Homo sapiens: one gene and its partners. The protein of the gene in region 3 purifies or fractionates together with the protein of the main gene of each other region. This does not show direct contact. Each region holds a gene or a part of one and is shown on either strand. Other genes may lie near its edges.

Region 1 (3,290 bases), on a different chromosome or scaffold from region 3:
GATTTCTGTTCTCTTTTCTCAGCTTTTACAAAGTCTGGCTCCAGAGTTGCTAGATTATTTCTGAGACACTTAAATGTATATAGACTTACATGCTTTGTATCTATCAAAGCCTGTGTTAGAATTTAATTTAGAATGTTGTTTACAAAACCATAGGAATTTCAAAATGGAAATGTTCCCAAGGAAGTTTACAAGAGAAAGAAGAAGAAATCTATCTCGTTGGAAAGGCAAAAGCCAGTATTAGCAAGGAGGGGAAATAATTACATTGTCTTTCTTATAAACAACTTGGTAGTTTCTTCCATTTTTATAAGATGAGTAATGAGCACTGATGAATTAAACAGATTTGCTCTTTCCCCCTTATAGGAAAAGGCATTAATAGCTGCTCAGCTGGACAATGCCATTGAGAAGGAATTACTGGAGAGACTGAAACAAGATACGGTGAGAAAGCCATTAGCTTTGGGGTACTGAAATTTTAAGTGGTAGTATGTTGCTAAGACATATTGGGAATTTTTTTTTTTTTTTTTTTTTTTTTTTTTTTTTTTTTTTTTTTTTTTTTGAGATGGAGTCTTGCTTTGTTGCCCAGGTTAGAGTGCAGTGGTGCAATCTCGGCTCACTGCAACCTCTGCCTCCCAAGTTCAAGCAATTCTCCTGCCTCAGCCTCCTGAGTAGTTGGGATTACAGGCACCACCACTGCACCCAGCTAATTTTTGTATTTTTAGTAGAGACAGGGTTTCACCATCTTGGCCAGGCTGGTCTTGAACTCCTGACCTCGTGAGCCACTGTGCCTGGCTGGGAAATGTTTTTTAACATGATATGAAGATCTCCACTCGAATTTTATCCCTGGAATAAAATAAATCCATATCGGCCTGGCTTCCTTGCTTTAATTAATGCAAGCACATAAAATGCTTTGGTTACCCTTGATACTCCATTCACTATAAGAGACCTTTCCCTTTTTGCCATTATTCTCAGCTCCATTCCCCAAGACAACAATTCCAGATTTCTGTATAAAAGCCATGGGGTTTTGCTTCTCCTGCATATTACCCTAGTCTTTTAAGGCTCTTTGAAATAAGTTTTTATTCTCTTTTTAAAAATTAGTGTTGTTTATACAGACAACATGACTAAAGTATGCTTTTTCCTTATTATTTCCCCTTGTCAGCAAAATGACATTTGTCCCAATGCATGGGTTTTGTAGACTATTACATTTTAAATTATTTTAAAATGTAACTCCATAGAAGTTACCTATTTGATACTAACTGCAGATGATTTAAATGTTCAAAAGAACATGCTTTTTTAAGACACTGCTGGCTCTACACTTAAAAATATTACTCATCAAATTAAGTATTCTGATTTAATCACTGAGGAAAAAGTAATATTCTCCACAGAAAGTGGAACTTCAAGTGTAATATCCAAATGTAGTTAAAGCCAATCTGTGTTTATGTTCTTCAGTATGGCGACATCTACAACTTCCCCATTCATGCCTTCGACAAAGCCCTGGAACAACAGGAGGCAGAGAGTGACTCTTCAGATACTGAGGAAAAAGATGATGATGATGATGATGAGGAAGTAAGTCTTGTTTTTGTTTTGCCAAACCTACTAGATACCATTTGTATAAAACTGAGAAACAGAATATCATCTTCAGTCCGCTAACCAAAAATGATATGTCTTCTTTTTTCTTTCATGTGATTAATTTTGGTTTAGCACTGGTTGCTCTGTTCTTCAGGCTAACCAACAAACCATTAACAATTTTAGTCTTAATTTATTGGTCTTCTAAAATTGTTCCTGCAAGGTGACAAATTATAAAGCCTTTCCTGTCTATATGTAGTTTTTAACCATAATGAGGATGTTTTATTGCTAATAATTTAAATCAAGAATAAGAATGATCTGGTAGCCCTAAAATTTTTAAAATTCAGAAGCATTAAATTTAGAAAGAACTAAATTTTCATTGCCTAGTGAAAAGACTGTGGTTCTCATTATGTTATTTTGTACTTACTTAGATGTCTAATCTGAATCTTCATTATGTATTCTGAACCTAACAGTTATGTTTTATTTATAGGATGTGGGGAAAAGAGAATTTGTCGAAGATGGTGAGGTAGATGAGAGTGACATAAGTGATTTTGAGGTGAGCTTTATGGGTAAAAAGATTGTCCTTTGGCCTGCAGCAAAAAAAAAAAAAAAACAAAAACAGGGAGGTGGCCAGGCACCGTGGTTCACTCCTATAATTGCAGCACTTTGGGAGGCCAAAATGGGAGGATTGTTTGAGCTCAGGAGTTCGAGACCAGCCTGAAGAACATAGTGAGACCTCATCTCTAATAAAAAAAAAAATTTTTTTTTTTAGATGAAGTTTCGCTCTGTAGCTCAGGCTAGAGTGCCATAGTGCAATCTGGGCTCATCGCAGCCTCAGCCTCCCGGGTTCAAGCGATTCTCCTCCTTCAGCCTCCCAAGTAGCTGGAATTACAGGCATGTGCCACTCCACCCGGCTAATTTTTTGTATTTTTAGTAGACACGGGGTTTCACCATGTTGGCCAGGCTGGTCTAGAACTCCAGACCTCTGGTAATCCGCCTGCCTCAGTCTCCCAAAGTGCTAAGATTAGAGGCATGAGTCACAGGGCCTGGCCTAAAATTTTTTAAAAATCATGACCAGGCGTGGTGGCTCACGCCTATAATCCTAGCACTTTGGGAGGCCGAGGTGGGCGGATCACATGAGGTCAGGAGTTCGAGACCAGCCTGGCCAACATAGCAAAACCCCGTGTCTACTAAAAATACAAAAATTAGCTAGGTATGGTGGTGCATGCCTGTAATCCCTGCTACTTGGGAGGCTGAGGCAGAAGAATCGCTTGAACCTAGGAGATGGAGGTTGCAGTGAGCTGAGAGCGCACCACTACACTCCAGCCTGGGCAACAGAGCGAGACTCCGTCTCCAAAAAAAAAAAAAAAAAAAATTAAAATTCAGCTGGATGTGGTGGCGGTTGCCTGTAGTCCCAGCTACTCAGGAAGCTGAGGTGGGAGGATTGTTGACTACAGCAGTTTGAGGCTGCAGTGAGCCATGACTATGCCACTGCACTCCTGCTTGGGCAACAGAGCAAGACCCCGTCTCAAAAAAAAAAAAAAAAAAAAATTAAAGAAAGGGACAATTTCTGAACACAGACATAGACAAATCAATGCCCTAGTCTGTTCTAGATTGAGGGGACAAGGAAGGGAGTTTGGAGAAATCTAGTGTTTTCCCTCTTCCTTTATCTTTTCTCTCCCCGTAATAGGATATGGATAAACTGGATGCCAGCAGTGATGAAGATCAGG
Region 2 (3,007 bases), on a different chromosome or scaffold from region 3:
CCTGGGGTTCACACCATTCTCTTGCCTCAGCCTCCCGAGTAGCTGGGACTACAGGTGCCCGCCACCTCGCCCAGCTAATTTTTTGTAATTTTAGTAGAGATGGGGTTTCACCATGTTAGCCAGGATGGTCTCGATCTCCTGACCTCATGATCCGCCCACCTCGGCCTCCCAAAGTGCTGGGATTACAGGTGTGAGCCACCGCGCCCAGCTAAGAATTGTTTTTATGAAATTATTGAGAGATTTTGCCTCCTGCTTCCTTTCTGGTATTGAGAGGTAAGTAGTTGATCACTTTATCCCGTTTGCTTTGGCTTTAAAGACGGTCAAGGATAAATTCAATAGAGCCATGATAACCATGCTGGCCAAATAAATCTGTGCAGATTTTTCCCATACAACTTTCTGGCTTTATTTCTCCTGGTTTGAATTTTTTAGACTATGGTTTTATTATATATATATTATATATGCTTGGAGCTGCATCAAGGGTCAGTGAGATTTACTTCACAGGAGGAAACCAAGGGGAGCAGAGGGAAGTAGGAAGCCCGGCTTGGTATGGCTACAATGGCTAGGTGATAGAGTACTTTGGACGAATGGCTCTTGAGACGAATGGCTCTTGGTTCAGGGAACGGCACAGTGGGGGCGTGGCTGAAGCAGTATACTCGGAAATCTGCTCTGAGGAACCAGAGCAAACTGTACAGAGGAAAGGGGAGAATGGAGGCCAGTGATTGGCTGTGAGGTGCTGCCATAACCCAGGTAGGAGAGACCCACAGGCTAGCAGCTGCTTTGAGAACACAGGACACATTCATGAGAATCTCTGTCTCCTAACTTGATTCAACACAAATTAAGATATTTCACTTACACAGGTATGCTTGTTTCTTAAAACAATTAATTTGAAAAATAAGAGGTTTTTAACCTACTCTATTTGACTTCTGAGTCCCTCAAATCTCTGCGGTGTCTTTTAAGTTTACAAGTGAGATGGGTACTGCCTCAGAAATATAACAATTATTTTTTTCCTTATATATAAACTTTATATATAAAATCTATACTTTATAAGTATCAAACTATTATACATGAGGTAATATTAGGAAGTAAACTGCTAGACTGTAGTATAAGATTAACTACAAGTATTGACAAGGCTCATGAAAATTAAAAAATTAAGCATTCCTATTTATTCCCTTTCTATGCAATGAATTGCATTATCCACTGTATAAGGTTGTTATGAGACTTAAATAAGAAGTGCCTTGCCCACCTCCCGAGCCACAGCTGAGAAGCGAACCAATCAACCTGGGCAGACAGCAAAAGGGCACTGAGAGATGACTTGCTCTCCATTCCTCAGTTTCCTGCTTCTAAGGGCCTAGGATTTACCCTTGTTTCCTGCTTTCTTTCGTCTTGTCTGATAAACCTTTGCTTGGAGTATATGCAATTCCCTTTCTTGCTTTAGCAGGATTAGATAACAATGAAAATAACTTTGATTCCTATTTTCAAATAGGACTTTGCTAAGAAGTATCACTAGCTTTGGTGTACTCTGTATGTCCAGCAAGTTGGTAATACTATTACTTTTCCCAACAATAAAACAATATAATGACGAGTTTCCATTTCATGGTATTTGTCTAATAATAACCAATAATCAATATTACTATATAAAACTGCATATTTAGAATCTCATTATTATTTGTACTTGGAACATTAGTATTTGAATCTTGTGTTAATGATACCATCACACTCCTAAAGTTTGTAACTCACACAAGTGTATAATCTGACTACAGTTTATAAACCAATGAGAAAGATAAATATTCTTATATTTTAACAACAGAAAAGTTACGAACTCTAAATTTAGAAATGGTATAGTAAGAGATATTGTTTCACTTTATTTATAATAGTAAGAAACTGGAAACAAATGTCTAACAATAGGAAACTGGTTTAAAAAAATCATAGAACCATAATTTATTTTAAGCCCTAAAATGAAATTGTGAACCATTAAAAATATGTTGTAAAACTATTTAATGTCATAAAGAGAACTAACTCTGTTTTTATGGTCCATCTACCAATGTCTTCCGAGCAGTTCTCTCTCCTCAAACCTCCTCTACCTCTTTACTCACCCTCACTCAGCCTAACCTTGCTTCCGATTTTATTAAGGAAATCCAATCAATCAGAAGAGGTTTCTACAATTTACTATCACATTTACCCACCAGCCATCACCTCTGCCATATATGCTCCTCTCCTATTCCAATGGCTGGAATGTCTCAGGGAAGACCAAGCCCTTCACTTGTACATTAGATCCCAGCTCTCTGTCCCATCCATTATGGAAGCTGCACATCACCCCAGTCACACAAGAGGGCACTCTGAATGAGGAATCTTGTAAACTACTCCAAATCACCAGTCTTGAACAGTCTTGAACACGCATGGGCGTTAAAGTACTCTTTATCTGTACATTGCTACCTACAGAAGAAAACAGAGAACAAAAACACATCAGCTCATGAAAATTACCAGCAGAGCCGCCCTTACTCCCAGTTCTCATCTCCCAAAACAACAACAACAAAAAACATATAGCTGAAGAAAACAAGCAAAAATCCAAACAGAATTAAACACCCCTCTTTGGGAAAATTAAAGAACATTCTGAATTGAAATTCAAAAACTAAGATTAGAACTGAAGCAAAAAAAAAAAAAATACAAATAATGAGACAAGAGTTGACTAACCTCAGACATGGCAAACAAGAAAAAAATTATATTACAAATGAAGACTATATTACAAGAAAGAATAAATTTGAATGGAAACATGATAAACATTATCGGACAAAAGCAGAAAGAGAACAAAAAATGAGATGAAGAAAGAAAAATTTAATAGAAAACAAAGAAAACACATTATAGAGAAAGAAACACAGTAACAATAAAATGACAGAAACTAAACCAAACATTTGGTAATTTCAACAAATGTGAATGGTCTTAATCCACTTATCAAAAGAAAAAGATTTTTGGTTGAGCCCGCAGAGCAAAACCCAACTACATATGTTCC
Region 3 (3,500 bases):
AGAAACCTTTTCCACACCAGTTCTGCAGCAGTCGCTATTAGATGCTCGTGGTAGAACCCATCAATCATCTGGTCCTCTGGGTACTGGTGAGCATCCCTGGTCTTCATACCTGTGAGTGGGCTTTGTGGTGAATTACTGTAAATATGCTACCCTCACTTTTCTTGGCAGTTATGTCGATGAAATCAAGAGTGTGATGTTCTAGTTATTTTTTTTTATATATATTTTTAAATGTTCAATATTCAACTATTGAAACAAATGTACATCTGTGAACTAGCTAAAATCATCTTATGTACCACTAATATGCCCAGCACATTTTGTAAAACAGTCCTGATTTGGCCTCCAAGGGTATTTATTGAACTACCAGCAGTATCTAGGAGACCACGAAGGAATACCACGAAGGAATTTATGCTCCAGTGCTTGCCATAATTTGTCTGAGAAGGAATCTGTTAAATAAAAGCTTTTATCCTCTAACCTTTACCTTCATCAGACCTTATAAAAGGTCAAATGGTGATTCTTAAGTTTTTTAGTCACAAATCTTACTTATTCAGTATTAGTGCGAAGAGTAGAATACTTTCAAGTAAGCCTAAACTTACATGAAAACAAATTACATAAATCTAGCTCTGAGAATAGGAAATTAGTGACAAGATCAATCTGTAAGATGTTGAGCACTTATCTGAAGTAAATGGGTAATGAGTTTCACATCTTATAAATACAAGTTAGCATGTGTTTTCTCAAGAGTCCAAGGGTTTTCATTATTGGACTACAGCTTTAATCTTCTAAATGTTATTCCCCAAGATTAAAGAGCATCTCAAGTTAGATCACCAAAGATCAAAAGCTAAAACCAGAAGTATTTTTGTCATTGTGGTGGTGGTAGTGTTACTAATTGCCTAGATTTTTAAAGGGAAACATTTTTTTCACTGGGTTGTTTCGTTGAAAAAAATAGAAGCAGAAACTTGCCCAAAGTCACAGTGGTCAAACTGGAAATTGCACCAAAACTTGGCATACTGGTTCTGAAATCCATAGTTTTAGCCCTTATGTATACTGGTTAATTTGGAAGGAAGAAATATATACGTTCTGAAGTGAAGAGTGAGTGAAAGGAAGAATTCAGTGAATACATTGATACCTTGATATTATCTGCATTGTGGCTACATGTTACTTTTCTTCACAAGAGTGATATAAGTGAAATAAAGAATGATTGGACTGGGAGAAAAATGGCTCAGAAAACTTTGCAAAAGTACGACTGTATGTAAAGATAAGTATTCAACATTAAATGGGAAGGAGGAGAGCAAGCAGTTTAATATATAGAATTTTATAATTTTAGGCCTGCAAGGGACCTTATAAAACATGAGCAATGGAACACTTTTTTCCAAACTAAATTTCGTGCAGTGGAACTTGGCCGACTCTGTCCTTCCTCTATTCTAAGCACCCTACTCTAGCCCGGCTGCTCTGAGTTCAGTTTGTTACAAATATGGACACGAAAGTACCACAGGCTTTGCACAGCTTAATTGAAGTTTCCCCTTCACACCATGGTAAAAAAACATACTGGGATGGAAGGGTTTGTGTCTAGAACAAGAACAAGAAATAAACTCTTGGTCACTTACTAATATTTCAAAATCACAAAGCAGAATTTTGCTTGGATGTTTAGTAAAACATCCTTGGAAATTTAACTGCTTGCAGCTTCTACACTTCTTCATTAAATGCTGTCTGGCTAATAAAAAGTGCCATGTTGCAGCTTTATTTTATTTTCATTTTTTGGAGATAGACCCTCACTGTGTCACCCAGGCTGGAGTGCAGTGGTACAATCTCTGCTCACTGCAACCTCCACCTCCTGGGCTCAAGTGATTGTCCTGCCTCAGCCTCCTGAGTAGCTGGGGTTACGGGCGTCCACCACCACACCCAGCTAGTTTTTGTATTTTTAGTAGAGGGGGTTTTTGCCATGTTGGCCAGGCTGGGCATGGTGGCATGGTAATCTCAGCTACTTGGGAGGCTGAGGCAGGAGGATCGCCTGAACCCGTGAGATGGAGGTTGCAGTGAGCTGAGATCACACCACTGCACTCTAGCATGGGTGACAGAGCAAGACTCTGTCTCAAAAAAAAAAAACAAAAAAAAAAACGAAAACAGAATTCTGTTTGTTTGGATGACCTGTTATACTTATTTTTGATCTTGCTGAAATAAGCAAATCTTAGGAATCTTAGTCTACAGTTTCTGACAGTTTTTTTTGTTGTTGTTGTTTGACCAATTAGAACTAAATAAAAAGAACGTGATTTTCACATTTAAATTTCTCTTAAATGTATTCCTAGAACAGTAAGCCATTGGTTTAATTGCTACTTGATGCCAGTTTCCTTGAAGATAGCCGTTAAGATAAAACATGGTTTCATTGTTAATTCTGTAGAAAGTTACATGTTACTATTATGTTATTCTATTGGTGTATTGTTCCTTTTACTCACCACAGAGATTGTCCAAACACTTGTCATTATTGGGGCAGGCACTGCAGGTGGCTCCTCTCTTATATGGCCAAGTTGGGTAATTCCCTCTGTAAAGCAGAAGAAGGATGTCCATTAGAAGTTTTTCGGTTTTTTAAAATTGCAATTTACTATGAATCCTTAACTAAATCCAGAAGAATAGTGGAGTGAAGTACAAAGGTCCAGAGAGTTGGTAATAGAAGTGAAGACAGGAAGGCAGAAATGGAAGGCTGCTAATATTTGCATAGTTCATTCTATGTACCTGTGTCTATGCACCTGTTTTAATCTGCATCCCATTTAATTGTGACAGCTCTGAGAGGAAGTTATTCTTGTTTTACAGATGAGACAAAAGATGTAAGAGATACCTTTAATCACAATTTATACACTTCAGAGTCAGAGGAAACCTGGATTTAACTCCAGGGCTGTGCTCCCTCTCTTTACCTACCCTCTGGCCTATATGATTACTGCCATTTAAAAAACTGTCCATCTTAGAAAAGCTATGGTGACCCACATTCAATATTCTCAGTTGGTCAGCCCTCCATAATTTTCACTGGATAGGAGCCATTTGGCTGGTGCCTTCCAAAAAAATAATAAATAATGGTATGGGGGAATTTCTAAAGTACAAATTGTTTTCACATACAAGATGTGATATGAATAATAGCTGCTAATTAGTGAGCACTACCATGTGCTTGTCTTTGTTCTAAACAACCTTGAATGAAATAATCTTCACAAAAACCCTATGAGGAAGTTACTGTTGTCTATTTATACCCATTATATAGCTAGAGGCTGAGTCACAGAGTATAAGTAATTGACCAAGGTCACAGACTAGAAAGTGAAATAATATCCAAGCATTTTATATCCCCATAAATATCCTCATAGTAGTAATGGGGAGAGGGGGCACATTTATCTCAATGAACCTGCCATTGCACTAATTTTTTTTGGAACTCTGCTTTTGGAAAAAGTTCTAAACTTTTTTGTGTAATCGTACCCTTTGGCAGTCTGGTGAGGCCTATGGGCTCTTTCTCAACATAGTTTGTT
Region 4 (3,500 bases), on a different chromosome or scaffold from region 3:
GCAGCCATCCTGCACACTGACATTTTCGCTGGTCTTGTGAAGTAAAACTGCAAATCTTACAAGAGATGCGGGGGACCTGCTCAAGTCATATGAAGCCCCAGCAACGGGCAGCCCCACTTCCGAGGAACAGAAAACCAGCCAGGCTGAGGACACAGGAGCTCCAAACAGTACATCTGAAAGTCAAAGGCCTAGGAAAGGGCCTGGGGACACTGACGCTGCTTTGGAATATTTTTGCAAAAATTACCTTTTAAGGATCCTAGTATAAGGTCAAAAGTGGCTGCCTCCCAGTCACCCTCCCTGTAACGGTGATCATTTACTGTGGCATCACCAGGTTGGCTTTGTCAATCACCCTCCCTGCAACGGTGATCATTTACTGTGGCATCACCAGGTTGGCTTTGTCAATCACCCTCCCTGCAACGGTGATCATTTACTGTGGCATCACCAGGTTGGCTTTGTCAATCACCCTCCCTGTAACGGTGATCATTTACTGCAGCATCACCAGGGTTGGCTTTGTTCTGACTCTAGCTACTCAGGGCTCTACCTCTGCCTTCATGATCTATGATTGAGTGACCAGTCTCGTTCAGCCTTAAATCTCCTGAGTAGACCCCAGGTGTCATAAAGTATTTGCTGACTGACATAAAGAATCACAAAATGATAAGGTAGGTGTACAGTCTTGGAGTTTCCGAGCCTATGGATACATGAAATTAGAACACAAACAGAATCCTCAAGTCTTGATGTGTGTTACAAATGGTCTTTATTAGGATTTTACTAGGAGATCCTAGGAGAAATCTTTTGGAGCAACAAAGTGCTATAAACTAGATGAATGCAAACAAATATTTAGAATCAATGTGATCTTAATACTCCAAAAGATGCTTAAAAAGTGACAAAAAGGGCCAGACGCGGTGGCTCATGCCTGTAATCTCAGCACTTTGGGAGGCTGAGGTGGGCGGATCACGGGGTCAGACGATCAAGACCATCCTCACTAACACAGTGAAACCCCGTCTCTACTAAAAATACAAAAAAAATTAGCCGGGTATGGTGGCGGGCGCCTATAGTCCCAGCTACTCCAGAGGCTGAGGCAGTAGAATGGTGTGAACCCAGGAGGTGGAGTTTGCACTTTGCAGTGAGCTGAGATTGCGCCACTGCACTCCAGCCTGGGCGACAGAGCGAGAGTCCGTCTCTTAAAAAAAAAAAAAAAAGTGACAAAAAGACCTTTTAATGGACCAAAGTTTGTTTAGTGTATTCAGAGTGCGTTAACCTTAATTTACAGGTATTGATTTCCACTTTGCTAAGGGTCTTTCTCCCATCAACAATTTTATAATGGTACATTTTGATTCTTTTTTTTTTTTTTGAGATAGAGTCTTGCTCTGTTGCCCAGGCTGGAGTGCAGTGGCACAATCTAGGCTCACTGCAACCTCTGCCTCCTGGGTTCAAGCGATTCTCCTGCCTCAGCCTCAAGAGTAGCTGGGATTATAGGCGCGTGCCACCACGCCTGGCTAATTTTTTGTATTTTTAGTGGAGACAAGGTTTCACCATGTTGGCCAGGCTGGTCCGGAACTCCTGACCTCAGGTGATCTGCTGGCCTCGGCCTCCCAAAGTGCTGGGAATACTGGCATGAGCCACCACACCCGGCCTGCATTTTGATTCTTTTATGATAGTTTTCCATGTAAAACCAGGATATCAGGAACTAACATAAAACTAGTTTATTAAAGTATATTCCCTTTCACAGTTGGAGAGAAGATGTACCAACTGGTTCTCTTGCCCTCTTGTTATGAACAAGTCATGCCTGGGGATCCTCACGTGGATAATGTAAGTATGGTATGAGTAATAAACCCCACTAGAGCTGAGCCAACTGCGGTCATGATTGCAGTAACTTTTTTTTTCTTGGCCACAGTGACCTGCACTTATATTTAATCATGTTCAAAGACCACATATATCCCCAGTGAATTGAAGGCTTTGGGCAAGGATCATAAATAGCTGCTAAAACATTAGATGAAAAGATATCACCCAGGCGTGGCGGCTCACTTGAGCTCAGGAGTTTGAGACCAGCCTGGGCAACACAGCAAAACCCAATCTCTACAACATTGTACTCCATGGAGCTTGGGCGACAGAGCAAGACCCTGTCTTAAACACACACACACACACACCAACAACAAAACCAAAAAATTGGCAGAGCATGGTGGCATGTGCCTGTAGTCCCAAGTACTCAGGTGGCTGAAGTGGGAGGATGACCTGAGCCCAGGAATTTGAGGCTGCAGTAAGCTATAATCGTGCCACTGCACTCCAACCTGGGCAACAGAGCAACTCTGTCTCTCAAACAAACAAACAAACAAACAAACAAACGATATTAAGAAACTTGAAAGTGGATGTGTCAGACCATCAACACCCAAACCCACCGACCGATCATTAACATGCACAGGCAATAATCACGCATCAGATGCCAGAGGTGATGCCAACAGGAAGAACGCTGCACCAACCTATGAAGTATTCTTACAAAAGTAAGTGTCAAAAAAAAAAACACCCAACTGTGTCAAATCTTAACTATTAATATTAGTTTATAGGAAATACAGGGGACAGAGGAACATGGTAAGTGAGACAACAGGATGCAGTCAACAAACCCCAAATATGTGAAACTCTACAAGGCATATGACCTATGTCCCCAACAAATAAACTGTACAGAAAAAGATGGGTAAGAACTGTTAGATTTTAAGAGCGTCTTGGCAGACATATTAACCAAATGCAGTGGGTGGTCCTCATTTGGATTGCTCATAAAAAACATTTGATGAGAAAAACTAAACAGATTGGATATTTCATGCTATTAAGGATTTTTTTTTTTTTTTTTTGGAGACAGTTTCACTCTGTCGCCCAGGCTGGAGTGCAGTGGTGCAATCTCGGCTCACTGCAACCTCTGCTGCCCAGGTTCAAGCGATTCTCCTGCCTCAGCCTCCCACGTAGCTGGGATTACACGCACCTGCCACCGCACCCAGCTAAGTTTTGTAGTTTTTAATAGAGACGGGGTTTCGCCATGTTGGCCAGGATGGTCTCAGTCTCTTGACCACATGATCCCCCCACCTTGGCCTCCCATAGTGCTGGGATTACAGGCGTGAGCCACCAGGCCTGGCAGCCATGCTAGTTTTAAGGGGGAAAGTGAAGCACAACTTTGTGCAGGAGCTCAACTGCTGGTGCCAGCACCTTGTTTTTCTCCACTGCAACCTCTGCTGCCCCAAAGATTGTCTCCATTCTCAGACAGGCTCCACCTGTGTTACAAGGTGGCTGGGAGCAGGTACAAACTGTGTGTTCTCTTCAAGTCCAGTAAGGAGAGAGCTAGAAACTCCTAAGGACTGAGCAAGAAGATTTTTACCTGCAGAGGGTCACTTGGCTTTTCTTGAACCTGTCCTGTGGCCAAGGGAATTCTGCTGAATTGGCAGAAGCCGCCGCCTCTCCACGTGGGGTAAGCCCCACCCAGACCACAGAGTCCCTCCACACCCTGCTTGAAGGTG
Region 5 (3,500 bases), on a different chromosome or scaffold from region 3:
GAATGACCCCAACCCCACCAGATGGTGACAAGCACAATACTCTTGGACAGCTGGGAATTGGTGGATTTGGGATTTGAATCCTCTGTCTAACCCTGGCCCTGCCCTGTGGGATTCTCTGCCACGGCAAAGAAGGGGGTTGTGGGTGATGGCAGGTGTCTTTGGTGGGTTAACAGCATCGTCATCAGACAGTGAGGAGGACCCAGAAGCCTTGGAGAAGCAGAAGAAAGTGCGGCCCATGTACCTGAAGGACTACGAGAGGAAGGTTATCTTGGAGAAGGCAGGGTATGGAGAAGGCCTACATCCCCACCCCCTGGTTCCCAGCCCTGTCAGGTCTATGGGGGTCTTAGGGGCAGGAGAGGGAAAAAAGCTGGCAGCCTGGGCCGGGCATGGTGGCTCATGCCCATAATCCCAGCACTTTGGTAGGCTGAGGCAATAGGATCGCTTGAGGACAGAAGTTTGAGACCAGGCTGGGCAACATACCCCGCCTCTACAAAAAAATTAAAAATTAGCTGGGCATGATGATGTGTACCTGTAGTCCCAGCTACTCAGGAGGCTGAGGCAGGAGGATTGAGCCAGGAGATGGAGGCTGCAGTGAGCTATGATCAGGCCACTGCACTCCAGCCTGGGCAACAGAATAAGACCCTGTCTCAAAAAGAAAAAAGGCCGGGCATGGTGGCTCATGCCTGTAATACCAGCACCTTGGGAGGCTGAGGCGGGCAGATCACCTGAGGTCAAGAGTTTGAGACCACCCTGGCCAACATGGTGAAACCCCGTCTCTACTAAAAATACAAAAATTAGCCAGATGTGGTGGTGGGCGCCTGTAGTCCCAGCTACGTGGGGAGGCTGAGGCAGGAGAATCGCTTGAATCTGGGAGGTGGAGGTTGCAGTTTTCCGAGATCATGCCACTGCCCTCCAGCCTGAGGGATAGAGCGAGACCCTGGCTCCAAAAAAGAAATGCTGTCACCCATGATTGGAAAAGAAAAAAAAAAAAAAAACGCTGGAAACTCACCAGAATCGCAGATAGCCCTGAGAGCAGGAGTCTCAGTGATTCCATAGCCCTCCGATGACCCCCGCCAGCTGTTGCTTGGAATAGCTGCTCCGCATGGGCATGGGGACAGGCGGGCCCTGGAAGATATATTCTGAAGACCCCACTTTTCCTTTACAGCAAATATGTTGATGAGGAGAACTCAGACGGGGAGACTTCCAATCACAGACTCCAGGTGGGTGGGGTGAAGGCTGGGTCGGGGGGCTGAGGGGCCTGGGGCTGGCCTGAGACCTATGGCCCTCTCTGCAGGAGACATCGTCGCAAAGTTATGTGGAGGAACAGAAACAGCTCAAGGAAAGGTGAGGCTGGGTGGGCGGGAATGGCCCAATGGAGGAAAGTTGAGGCTCGGGGGTTGGATAGGCACGGGTTCAAATTGAGCTCTGTCACTTTCTATGTGCTTCAGTTTCCTCATCAGTTAAACGGGGTTAATAACATCACAGCACTGCTCTGAGCTTGTTGAGAGGAGAGCTCAGGGCTTAGTAAATGGGGTTAATCTTGGGGCAGCCAGCCAGGTGAGGTGGCTCATGCCTGTAATCTCAGGGCTTTGGTGGGCAGAGGAGGGAGGATCACTTGAGCCCAGGAGTTCAAGATCAGCCTGGGCAACATAGTGAGACCCCAGCTCTACAAAATAAAATAAATACTGGGGCAGCAGACAGGGGCCAGCCTGCCTGTCCTGAGGCTTGTTTTCTCTCGTGGGCAGCTTCCGGGCATTTGTGGAGGACAGTGAGGACGAGGACGGCGCTGGGGAGGGCGGCTCCAGTTTGCTGCAGAAACGTGCCAAAACCAGGCAGGAGAAGGTGGGTACTGGGGCCTGACTGGACTGCTGGGGGACAGGGTGGCGGGTGGCTGGGCATCTGCGGATGCTCAGTGCTAGCTTTCCCCCAGGCCCAGGAGGAGGCCGACTACATCGAGTGGCTGAAGGGACAGAAAGAGATTCGGAACCCAGATTCCCTGAAGGAACTGGTGAGTTCTCACGCATGGTCGCTGATGGAGTAGACCGCGTGTTCCGCGTCCATCCAACCTATTTACAGAAAGTAACCCTCTGAAGATGGGATATGTACATCTCTGGGCCTCAGCTCCTACATCTCTTTAAATGGGGATAGGCTGGGTGCCGTGGTTCACACCTGTAATCCCAGTGCTTTGGGTGGTCAAGGCAGGAGGATTGCTTGAGGCCAGGAGTTTGAGACTGGCCTGGGCAACATAGCAAAATGGCTCTACAAAAAAATGAAAAAATTAGCCAGGCATGGTGGCATGCACCTGTAGTCTCAAATACTTGGGAGGCTAAGGTGGGAGGATCTTGTGAGCCCGGGAGGTTGGGTCTGCAGTGAGCTATGATCACACGACTGTACTGTCACCTGGATGGCAGAGTAAGACCCTGTCTCGAAATAAAAATAAGAAACCAAAATGGGGCTAATGTCACCTACTCCAGAGGCTGGCTGTGAGGTCCATGTGGTGAGCATGCCTGCCCTCCTTCCCTGTCCTCCATTGACCAGAGTCCTGTCTCCTGTCACCCCCAGACGCATCTCAAGGAATACTGGAACGACCCTGAGTTGGATGAAGGGGAGCGGTTCCTGCGGGATTACATCCTCAACAAACGCTATGAGGAGGAGGAAGAGGAGGAGGAAGATGAAGAGGAAATGGAGGAAGAGGAGGGGTGAGCCACTGCATCTCCCCAGGACCTAGATTTTGGGTGCGCTTCATGAAGTATTCCCAGGCGGCACTGGCCAGGAGGCAGAGGGCACCATGTGTGTATTTTTTTCACAGATGGTGGCAGAGTTAGTCTTCTGTAAGGCAGAGCCACAGAGTATAGGCTCTGGAGCCAGGTGGCACTGCCTCAAATCCTGGTTCGGCTTCAAGACTTTCATGCCTCAGTTTCCCCATCTGTAAAATGAGGACAATAGCAGCGTGCACCTTGTAGGGTTCTTGTGAGGATTAAATGAGTTCATACGCTTCGTACCCAGGCGTGCAGGAAAGGGGGGCTCGACCTCACTTGGCTGGCCCCCTGGCATCACCACATCTTGCCCCTCAGGGTCCACGGTCCCCCAGTCCAGCTGGCTGTGGACGACTCCTCAGACGAAGGGGAGCTGTTTCTGAAGAAACAGGAGGACTTTGAACAGAAGTACAATTTCCGTTTCGAGGAGCCGGACTCAGCATCGGTGTGTGGCTGGGGCTGGGGAGGACTCAGCCCCCAGGGTTCAGGCCCAGGGAACCCCACATCATCTCTGCGGCCCTTGTGGGCTTTTCTGATTGCGCCTAGGTCAAGACCTACCCACGCAGCATCGCGTCCTCCGTGCGCCGTAAGGATGAGCGCAGAAAGGAGAAGAGGGAAGAGACTCGGGAGCGAAAGAAGAGGGTGAGTGTGGGGGGTGAGCTGGGGAGGACCCCCCAGCCCTGGAGGAAAGCCCATGCCCTCCCCCTCTCTGCCTGGGCCTGCAGGAGAAAGCAAAGAAGCAGG
Region 6 (3,877 bases), on a different chromosome or scaffold from region 3:
GAAGAAACCAAAGGTCGGTTGTACTAAATGTATATATATAGATACTTCTATAAAGTCACTGCTGAAGACAAGCATCCTATTGTGGAGGTACTTGAGGATGGGCTGAGACAGGGACCATAACTCTTCACCCCTCTTCCTCCCTCTGTCCTGCCTCAGCTCAAGGCCTCAGAATCTTCTGGATGCCATTGCTCATGCCCCTACTCACATTTCTACTCGTTGCTTTATTAATAGTAAATGCTCAATAAATTGTAGCTGCCAGTGCCGGGCATTGCTCTTGGCATTTGCAGAATACTCACTCTGTGAGGGAGGTGTCAGCCCATGTCACAGATGGGCAGTGAAACCCATGATAGGGGCACTCTTCACCAGGGACACAGCTGGAGACATGGCAGCAAGGATGCCAGGCCCTGCCCACGGCCCCACATCCCCTCCTCCCCACCTTCAACAGTGAGTTACTAGCGATTCTCCAAAACAGAAGAGATGGAGACCAAGACCACAGGAAAGCCTGTTTTTGTTTTTACTGGAGGCTCAGGTGGCACATGACAGATCATAAAATGGCTTCAGAGGTAGGGGGCCGGGGGAAAACAAAAATAAACTTGGGGTGGGGGCAAGAAAAGCAACCAGGAGGAGGTAAGAGCTGGCTGGTTCCTTCTCAGCCTGAGTTACGGGAGGGAGTTGCTGTCTCTGAACAGTAAGGATGGCTCCCTTCCTTCAACCCTTGATAAGGGGAGGGAAGAAAAAAGAAAAAGCAAAAGGCTGCTGCTTTGGTCCTCCTGAGTCTCAAGGAAAAGGTGAAAAGCTGGTGTTTTGATGTCATGAATTATGGGAAAGGGGGAGCAGGGTACTGGGTAGGGTACAGGTCATTTGGAAAAACTGGCAGATACCTGAGAGAGAAAAGGAAATGGACGGATTGTGAACAACAGCGACTTGTCATCGCCACCCAGTACCTCACCTTCCTGGCCACCCACCCAACTGCACCAGCCACTCACCAGATGGCAGCTCTGGGTGTCCTCTGAGTTGAGTTGGAATCACTCCAGGATGGTGGTGGTGGGGTCCCCACTGTTGACAGGGGCTGAGGTCTAAAGAACAGCGGTGGCCAATTGAGACTTGTTCTTTTTGTTTTTGAGACAGAGTCTCACTCCAGGTTGGATGGAGTACAGTGGCGTGATCTTGGCTCACTGCAAACTCCCCCTCCCAGTTCAAGTGATTCTCCTGCCTTAGCCTCCCAAGTAGCTGGGATTACAGGCATGTGCTACCACGCCTGGCTAATTTTTGTATCTTTAGTAGAGACGGGGTTTCTCCATGTTGGTCAGGCTGGTCTTGAACTCCTGACCCCAACTGATCTGCCTGCTTCTGCCTCCCAAAGTGCTGGGATTACAGGCATGAGACATCGCGCAGGGCTGAGACTTGTTCTTCAGGGCCCTGAACTTCAACCTTCTTTCACTTTTTCCCTTCCCATTAAAACCTCAATCACACCCCTCAGTTCACATCTACAAGCTGGTAGGATGGCTCCAGGCAGCAAGTGGGGGATGGGTTGGGGGGGGCATGGCCATCATGGGCAATCATGGGCTTGATTGCCTCTGTGGGGGCTTCCTGGTGGGAGGCGGCACCTGCCAGGGGGGGACCCAGCAGGCTGCATGGAAGAGGGTGGTGGCAGGGCCAGGGCAGGGGAGGGGAGGAGCCAAAGGATAGAGTAGGAAAGAAAAAGGAGCAGGTGGGGGAGGGAGCTGGTCTCAGCCTTTTCTTTCATCCCACATCTGAGGTCCTCACCTCAGGGGCTGCGGGCTGCCGGGGGCCAGGGGCCTGCTGGGGGCCAGGGGCCTGCTGCCGTCTCCGCTGGAAGTAGGGGCGGTTTCGTGGGCGCTGGGGCTCAGGCCGGGAACCATCAGCGGGACCTTGGCTGGGCTTGGTCTCACCATCCCCACCTTCTGTGGTAGGCTGCTGGCGTGGCCTGGGGCGGAAAGGCCTAAGGCAAGGAACAAGGCTCTGAGGGGACCAGGGAATACTCCCTCCCCAGGGCTCACCCAGCTGCCCCACCCCACCTCCAGGAGCCAGGCTTCCAGCCCATGAGCACTGCCTCCCCGCAAGGCACCTGTCTCGCCAGGAGCCCAGGCTCTGCCTAGAGCTTCACCCTTCCATCCTCCTGTCCCTTGCCCCAAGGATCCAACACTGGAAGGGGAAGACCAAGCCCCAGCAGGGGGGTCTTACCTTCGGTACCTGGGCCGGAATCTGGGCGGGGGGACTCGCTCATCTCCCTGCTGTTGGTGCCCCTCCAATGGGGCTGTCTCTTTGGGTTCTACCCTGTCAGTGCCCTGGGAACATGCAAAGGCCCCGGTGAGCTGTGGGGACAGCAGCTGCTCTGGAGCCAGATTATCCACAGCTCTGCCCAACCCTCAGTTCCTCCTTCTTTGGGGACCCATGGTCTCTATCCTAACTCCCACTCCTCTCCTGAACTTGGGGAACTGGCTCCCATATTCCAGCATCCCCTCACCTCTATAGGCTGCTGCTGGTTGGGAGGCCGGGGGCCTCGCACAAACCGCCGTCGGTAGAAGAAGGGTGGGGGGCACCATCGTCGGGGCCGTTGCCCAGAGTCTTCAGCCCGCTCCCCTTTACTGCCAGGTCCTGTCCCCGCCGAGGGGATCTCTGCCACCATGGGTGGTGGGGCAACTGAGGGAGGCCGGGGGATGAATCGGCGGGACTTACGTCGGTTGGGGGCATAACGGCTGCCCTTCACGGGTACTCCCCCAGGCCCAGTTACATTAGTGGCTTCTGCGCCCTGGGAAGGTGGTAAGGGAATAGTGAGAACCTGCTCCAACAGCCAATGTGCATTTCCCAACTTGCTTCCCCTTCTTTCAGGGGAAGACCCCTCTCCAGCTTTCCTTTAGCTCCTCTAACTTCTTTCTACCCTCCCTGGAGAGGCAGTGGAATGTGCTTGCACCCATTTGGGAAGGAGCAACATGTCCTTTTGAAATAATTGCTACTGCACCCTCCTGAGTATACGACTGGGTGGAGAAAGGCCTGGCAGCCAGCATCCACCTTTTTACTCCAGAGGCGGACTCGGGAAGTCTAGGACAGGGCCCCACGTGGAGAACGGATGTCGAAGTGCTTGGTGAACTAGAGAAGAAACCCAGACACTGCCGACCGATGACAGGGACATACTTAGGACATCCCTTAGCCCTAGCATTAAGGAAGAGGACATCAGGGTGAGAGAACACAGTCCCATTCCCGCAGAACGGGTCAGAGCTGGCCCCAGGAGGGTCTTAGCCTGTGATGACCTCCAGGCCACCCTCCCGTAAGCCTAGTCAACTCTATACCCCATAGCAGTCCCCAAACCTTCTCTCCTTCCACGACATCAAATTCCACAGTCTCCCCATCTCCAACGCTGCGCAGAAACTTCCTGGGGTTGTTTCTTTTAATAGCTGTCTGATTGGGGAAAAGGCCATGTGAAAAGTGAGACAGCAAGACAGGAGTCTCTGTCACCCCTGCTGGGGCCACCACCCAATTTCATTCTTTCAACATTTGACTTGGGGTCTAGAGCTGGAGGGTGGAGCAAGGAGGTGGTCAAAGTTTAGCAGGGGAAAAGTCCTGAACTCAGGGCCTCAGCAGATTGTGCAGTTACCACCATCCCCAGGATGCACTCCCCGCACCTCCCCTCCCGCCCCGCTTTACCCCTCAGGGATTTCAGAAAGGGAGGCAAGAAATATGAACTCCAAAGCAAAAGGCAGGGACAGCCTTCAGTCGCAAAGTGGGTAGAATGCACTGTGCTTCTTACCTCAGTCCCAGTGAGAGCTCTTTCCACCAAGCAGTGGTTCTCAAGCTGTAGCGTGCATCAGAATCACCTGGAGAGCTCGTTAAACCGATTGTGGAGCCCCAGCCCCAG
Region 7 (3,500 bases), on a different chromosome or scaffold from region 3:
TGGCCAAGAAATCCAAGTAAAATCTATCCTTGATGTAAAAGTAAAACATAAATGTAATTTAAAAGTATGAACGATAAAAGCTGGAACAGTATAAGGAGCACAGCTTAGAGAAGGGATAAAAATATTAGTATCTTCCTCTTACACAATAGGGGGTAAAGGGATTGTGGAATAATAAATATTAAAAGCAATGACATGACTACATGGAGGGAGAAAGTGCCCATGTGAACATCTGATACATATAAAAATATAAATATTTATATCAAGATATAGATTGTGGTATACTTTGAAACTAATGGGAAATACAGCTAGAAGAGTTTTAATAATTGCCTCTGGAGAGTAGGAATAATGATGCGTAATAGTGTGACAGGAGACAGTTGCTTTCATTGACAAGTTTTTCAAAACTATTTGATTTCCAAACTTGTTTATGTATTAACTTTATTTACTCATTAAAAACCAAAACAACAGTAAGTATCTTTGACAATAACTCTTGCTTACCAAAAAAATAAGCCAATTTTGGTATCTCCTTCAAAAACAAGGACTCCTGTTGGTGTTAGTCCCAAACTATAGTCATTCCCATCTCTAGCCTAATTTAAGGGGAGAAAAATGTGTTAGCTTTATTTGTACAAAACAGGTTTCACATTGACACAACTTTTAAATTTTATTTTTGTATTGAATTGTATTAATTATATACAGGCTAATATTAATATATGAGATGTTTTCAACAATTAGAGTATCCATAATAATATTCTCAGAAAAATTTATGCATATATTTTTATTTCTAGTCATTGAAACACTAGAGTTTTAAAGTGTATCTTCATTGAAAGTGGGTAGTTACACTCCCACTACAAACAAAGCTGTTTCCACATTCTTCCCATATTATACTTACCACTTAAATCATGTATTTTGGAAAAGACTGCTGATACGGTTTGGCTCTATGTCTACACCCAAATCTTGTGTCATATTGTAATCCCCAGTATTGGAGGAGGGGCCTGGTGGGAGGTGACTGAATCATGGAGACGGACTTCCCCCTTGCTGTTCTCATGATAGTGAATGAGTTCTCACAAGATCTGGTTGTCTGAAAGTGTGTAGCACCTCCCTCTTTGCTCTCTCTCCCTCCTGCCAGCCATGTACAGATGTGCCTGTTTGCCCTTCACGTTGCCCAATGATTATAAGTTTCCTGAGGCCTCCTGAGAGGGAGAAGCCTGTACAGCCTGCAAAACCATGAGCCAATTGAACCTCTTTATAAATTTATGTCTTTATAGCAGTGCGAGAATGAACTAATACAACCGCCTTTCTGGAAAAATGTTACTAGTTAAACTAGAAATAACTTAAATCACTACAAAGCTGTTCTAAAGTTTATCAAAGTCTTTAAGCTATAAATCTTCAACTTTGCATCCTGAATTATTTTAACAGAGCCTACTCAGTGTAAGTCGTATAACAGGAAGTAAAAAGGATAACAAATGGCTCAAAAGCTTAAAACAATTTTTTATAGCAAAAAAATAAAATAAAATAAAATAACAGCTTAAAAGGACCAAGTACCTTGTTAGGGATGTTGGTTGCTTCTCTTCTTTCTTATAATGAACCTTTCTGTGAGATTCTAGTCATTTGGTATTTAATCTCAAACTTTTTAACCATACATCCAAAGTACCCAGTGCTAGCTTATGCAAACTCCATGCCCTCCCTCATACTGAAAAATTCCACAGTCACTGCGAACCTCCAAAGAATAAATTTTTAAAAAAGCATCACAACACAATGCTTACCTTGACCACATGCATATCAACCCCATACATTTCTAGCCATTTGGCTTTATTCAGATAATTGGTTTCAGCCTGTGCTGGTGTTTGACCTCTGAAATTTAAAACAATGATTTTTAAAGTAACAATAAATATAAAATAAATTCTATACCAAGGATAGAAACAGAAGAAAATGAATATGAAATAACTGTTGTGGTGATTTTAAAGAAAGTATGGTCAAACGCCAGATACCTGTATTCCTTCCATTTCTCAAAAATAGCCAGTTCCATCTCTTCAGTCTGAATAGGCACGAATCTGAACTCTGAGACAAGTTCAGGACTATGCTCAGCAAGATCATAGTCACCAAGTTCAGCTATAAACATAAGTTTCAAAAGTTATATGTATTTCCTGCTAAATCCTTCAAAAACCATTTCATTAATGAAAACTGCTAAGATTAGAAAGATTCTTAGGAATTTCTTACAAAAATTCATAATACTCAGACAAGTCTCCAAAAGTAAATCTGGCATATTAGTCATACACATATATCTCATATTTATTTTTGGTAGTGTATTTTTAATTACATATCTTTCTCTTAATGTATTCACACTTCAGTGCTTACTTAACCTTTGAAAACTGCTTTCTAGACTTCCATAAAGAAATACCTCTGACCTTATAGTGAATAAATGAAAAAATTTAGCAATCGTTAAAAGACAATTAACTGGCATCTATTAAGAATATTACTAAGGCTGGGTGTGGTGGTTCATGCTTATAGTCACAGTACTTTGGGAGGGCTGAGGTGGAAGATGGTTTCAGGCCAGTCTAGGCAACATAGCAAGACCTCGTCTCTAAAAAAAAAAAAAAAAAAAAAAAAAAGTACAAAAATTAGCCAGGCCTAATGGCCTGTAGACCCAGCTACTCAGGCAGGAAGATCGTTTGAGCCCAGTAGTTCAAGGCTTCAGAGAGCTACAATCATGCAACTGCCCTCTAGCCTGGGGACAAGAGTGAGACCCTGTCTCAAAAAAAAACAAAACAAAAGAATATACTGATATACACTGAATATGACCCCATATACCAATCTAAATATAGTCCCTGTCTTCCAAAATTTTAAAATTATTAATCCTAAAGAAATAACTGAAAGGAACTAAAAAAAATCGGGGGGAGAAAGCAGCAGGGAAAAATCTGAACAATGCACAAACATGTATGTACTCATCTGTGGTTATTTCTGAACAAAATGTAGGTTTGGAGCAAAAGGACTGCTAAGCTATATGGCTTCACCAACAATTCACTCCTACATAACTGCATTTCTTTTAAGGAAAAAGTTAGCCGAAGGCCCAATCTTAGCATTTACAGACTTATCAGGTAGAGTATGACGTTTCAACACTTTAGGTGGAAAGGGCGCAATTACATGAAAGAGAAGAAAAAGAAGGCAATGTTCTAAAACAAGTAAAAGTCAGAGTTGGACCCTGATACAAGTTTATACAAAAACAGTGTTGTTTCTTTTCTTGCACATAATTAGAATCTTCTTTAACTAAAAACACACACAAAAAAGATTATACTTGAGTCTTAACAGTCAACATAAGAATTGCTTACCTTGCAGATTATAAGCTGCCAATTGCACTGCTGTATCAAAGGGACAGTCTAATCTGAGACCAAAACACAAGTTTGTTAGACAAGTTGATTTCATAACCTTCATTTTAAGACAAATGAAAATAATACATGTTTTATGTTGACCATTTCTTTTTTACAACTATAAACTTATTTTCAAAA

Evidence for each region.
Region 1: the proteins of KRR1 (region 3) and MAK16 purify together in Homo sapiens (affinity purification with mass spectrometry; 2 studies listed by BioGRID and IntAct, with this or other methods). This does not show direct contact.
Region 2: the proteins of KRR1 (region 3) and ZC3H8 purify together in Homo sapiens (co-immunoprecipitation; 2 studies listed by BioGRID and IntAct, with this or other methods). This does not show direct contact.
Region 4: the proteins of KRR1 (region 3) and RRP1B purify together in Homo sapiens (affinity purification with mass spectrometry; 2 studies listed by BioGRID and IntAct, with this or other methods). This does not show direct contact.
Region 5: the proteins of KRR1 (region 3) and KRI1 purify together in Homo sapiens (affinity purification with mass spectrometry; 3 studies listed by BioGRID and IntAct, with this or other methods). This does not show direct contact.
Region 6: the proteins of KRR1 (region 3) and YBX2 purify together in Homo sapiens (co-immunoprecipitation; 2 studies listed by BioGRID and IntAct, with this or other methods). This does not show direct contact.
Region 7: the proteins of KRR1 (region 3) and EPB41L5 purify together in Homo sapiens (co-immunoprecipitation; 2 studies listed by BioGRID and IntAct, with this or other methods). This does not show direct contact.

What each region holds. Positions count from the first base shown.
Region 1 is NC_000008.11:33,495,182-33,498,471, forward strand, and holds part of MAK16 (protein MAK16 homolog), read left to right. Parts: intron 1-360; coding exon 361-435; intron 436-1,443; coding exon 1,444-1,560; intron 1,561-2,050; coding exon 2,051-2,116; intron 2,117-3,250; coding exon 3,251-3,290.
Region 2 is NC_000002.12:112,214,036-112,217,042, forward strand, and holds part of ZC3H8 (zinc finger CCCH domain-containing protein 8), read right to left. Parts: intron 2,434-3,007; 3' UTR 1-2,433.
Region 3 is NC_000012.12:75,494,610-75,498,109, reverse strand, and holds part of KRR1 (KRR1 small subunit processome component homolog), read left to right. Parts: 3' UTR 1-2,447; coding exon of another isoform or gene 2,448-2,533; 3' UTR 2,534-3,500. Other genes in the region: GLIPR1 (glioma pathogenesis-related protein 1 precursor), read right to left, coding at 2,448-2,533. UniProt on the Homo sapiens protein: Part of the small subunit (SSU) processome, first precursor of the small eukaryotic ribosomal subunit.
Region 4 is NC_000021.9:43,666,060-43,669,559, reverse strand, and holds part of RRP1B (ribosomal RNA processing protein 1 homolog B), read right to left. Parts: intron 1-3,500. UniProt on the Homo sapiens protein: Positively regulates DNA damage-induced apoptosis by acting as a transcriptional coactivator of proapoptotic target genes of the transcriptional activator E2F1.
Region 5 is NC_000019.10:10,559,511-10,563,010, reverse strand, and holds part of KRI1 (protein KRI1 homolog), read left to right. Parts: intron 1-173; coding exon 174-282; intron 283-1,165; coding exon 1,166-1,220; intron 1,221-1,294; coding exon 1,295-1,344; intron 1,345-1,745; coding exon 1,746-1,842; intron 1,843-1,930; coding exon 1,931-2,008; intron 2,009-2,562; coding exon 2,563-2,699; intron 2,700-3,074; coding exon 3,075-3,201; intron 3,202-3,302; coding exon 3,303-3,398; intron 3,399-3,481; coding exon 3,482-3,500.
Region 6 is NC_000017.11:7,287,763-7,291,639, forward strand, and holds the end of YBX2 (Y-box-binding protein 2), read right to left. Parts: intron 3,815-3,877; coding exon of another isoform or gene 3,770-3,814; intron 3,421-3,769; coding exon 3,331-3,420; intron 2,774-3,330; coding exon 2,489-2,773; intron 2,310-2,488; coding exon 2,206-2,309; intron 1,964-2,205; coding exon 1,768-1,963; intron 1,077-1,767; coding exon 1,026-1,076; 3' UTR 987-1,025; intron 882-986; 3' UTR 501-881; downstream 1-500. UniProt on the Homo sapiens protein: Major constituent of messenger ribonucleoprotein particles (mRNPs). Involved in the regulation of the stability and/or translation of germ cell mRNAs. Binds to Y-box consensus promoter element.
Region 7 is NC_000002.12:120,075,577-120,079,076, reverse strand, and holds part of EPB41L5 (band 4.1-like protein 5), read right to left. Parts: intron 3,377-3,500; coding exon 3,324-3,376; intron 2,107-3,323; coding exon 1,986-2,106; intron 1,849-1,985; coding exon 1,761-1,848; intron 585-1,760; coding exon 496-584; intron 1-495. UniProt on the Homo sapiens protein: Plays a role in the formation and organization of tight junctions during the establishment of polarity in epithelial cells.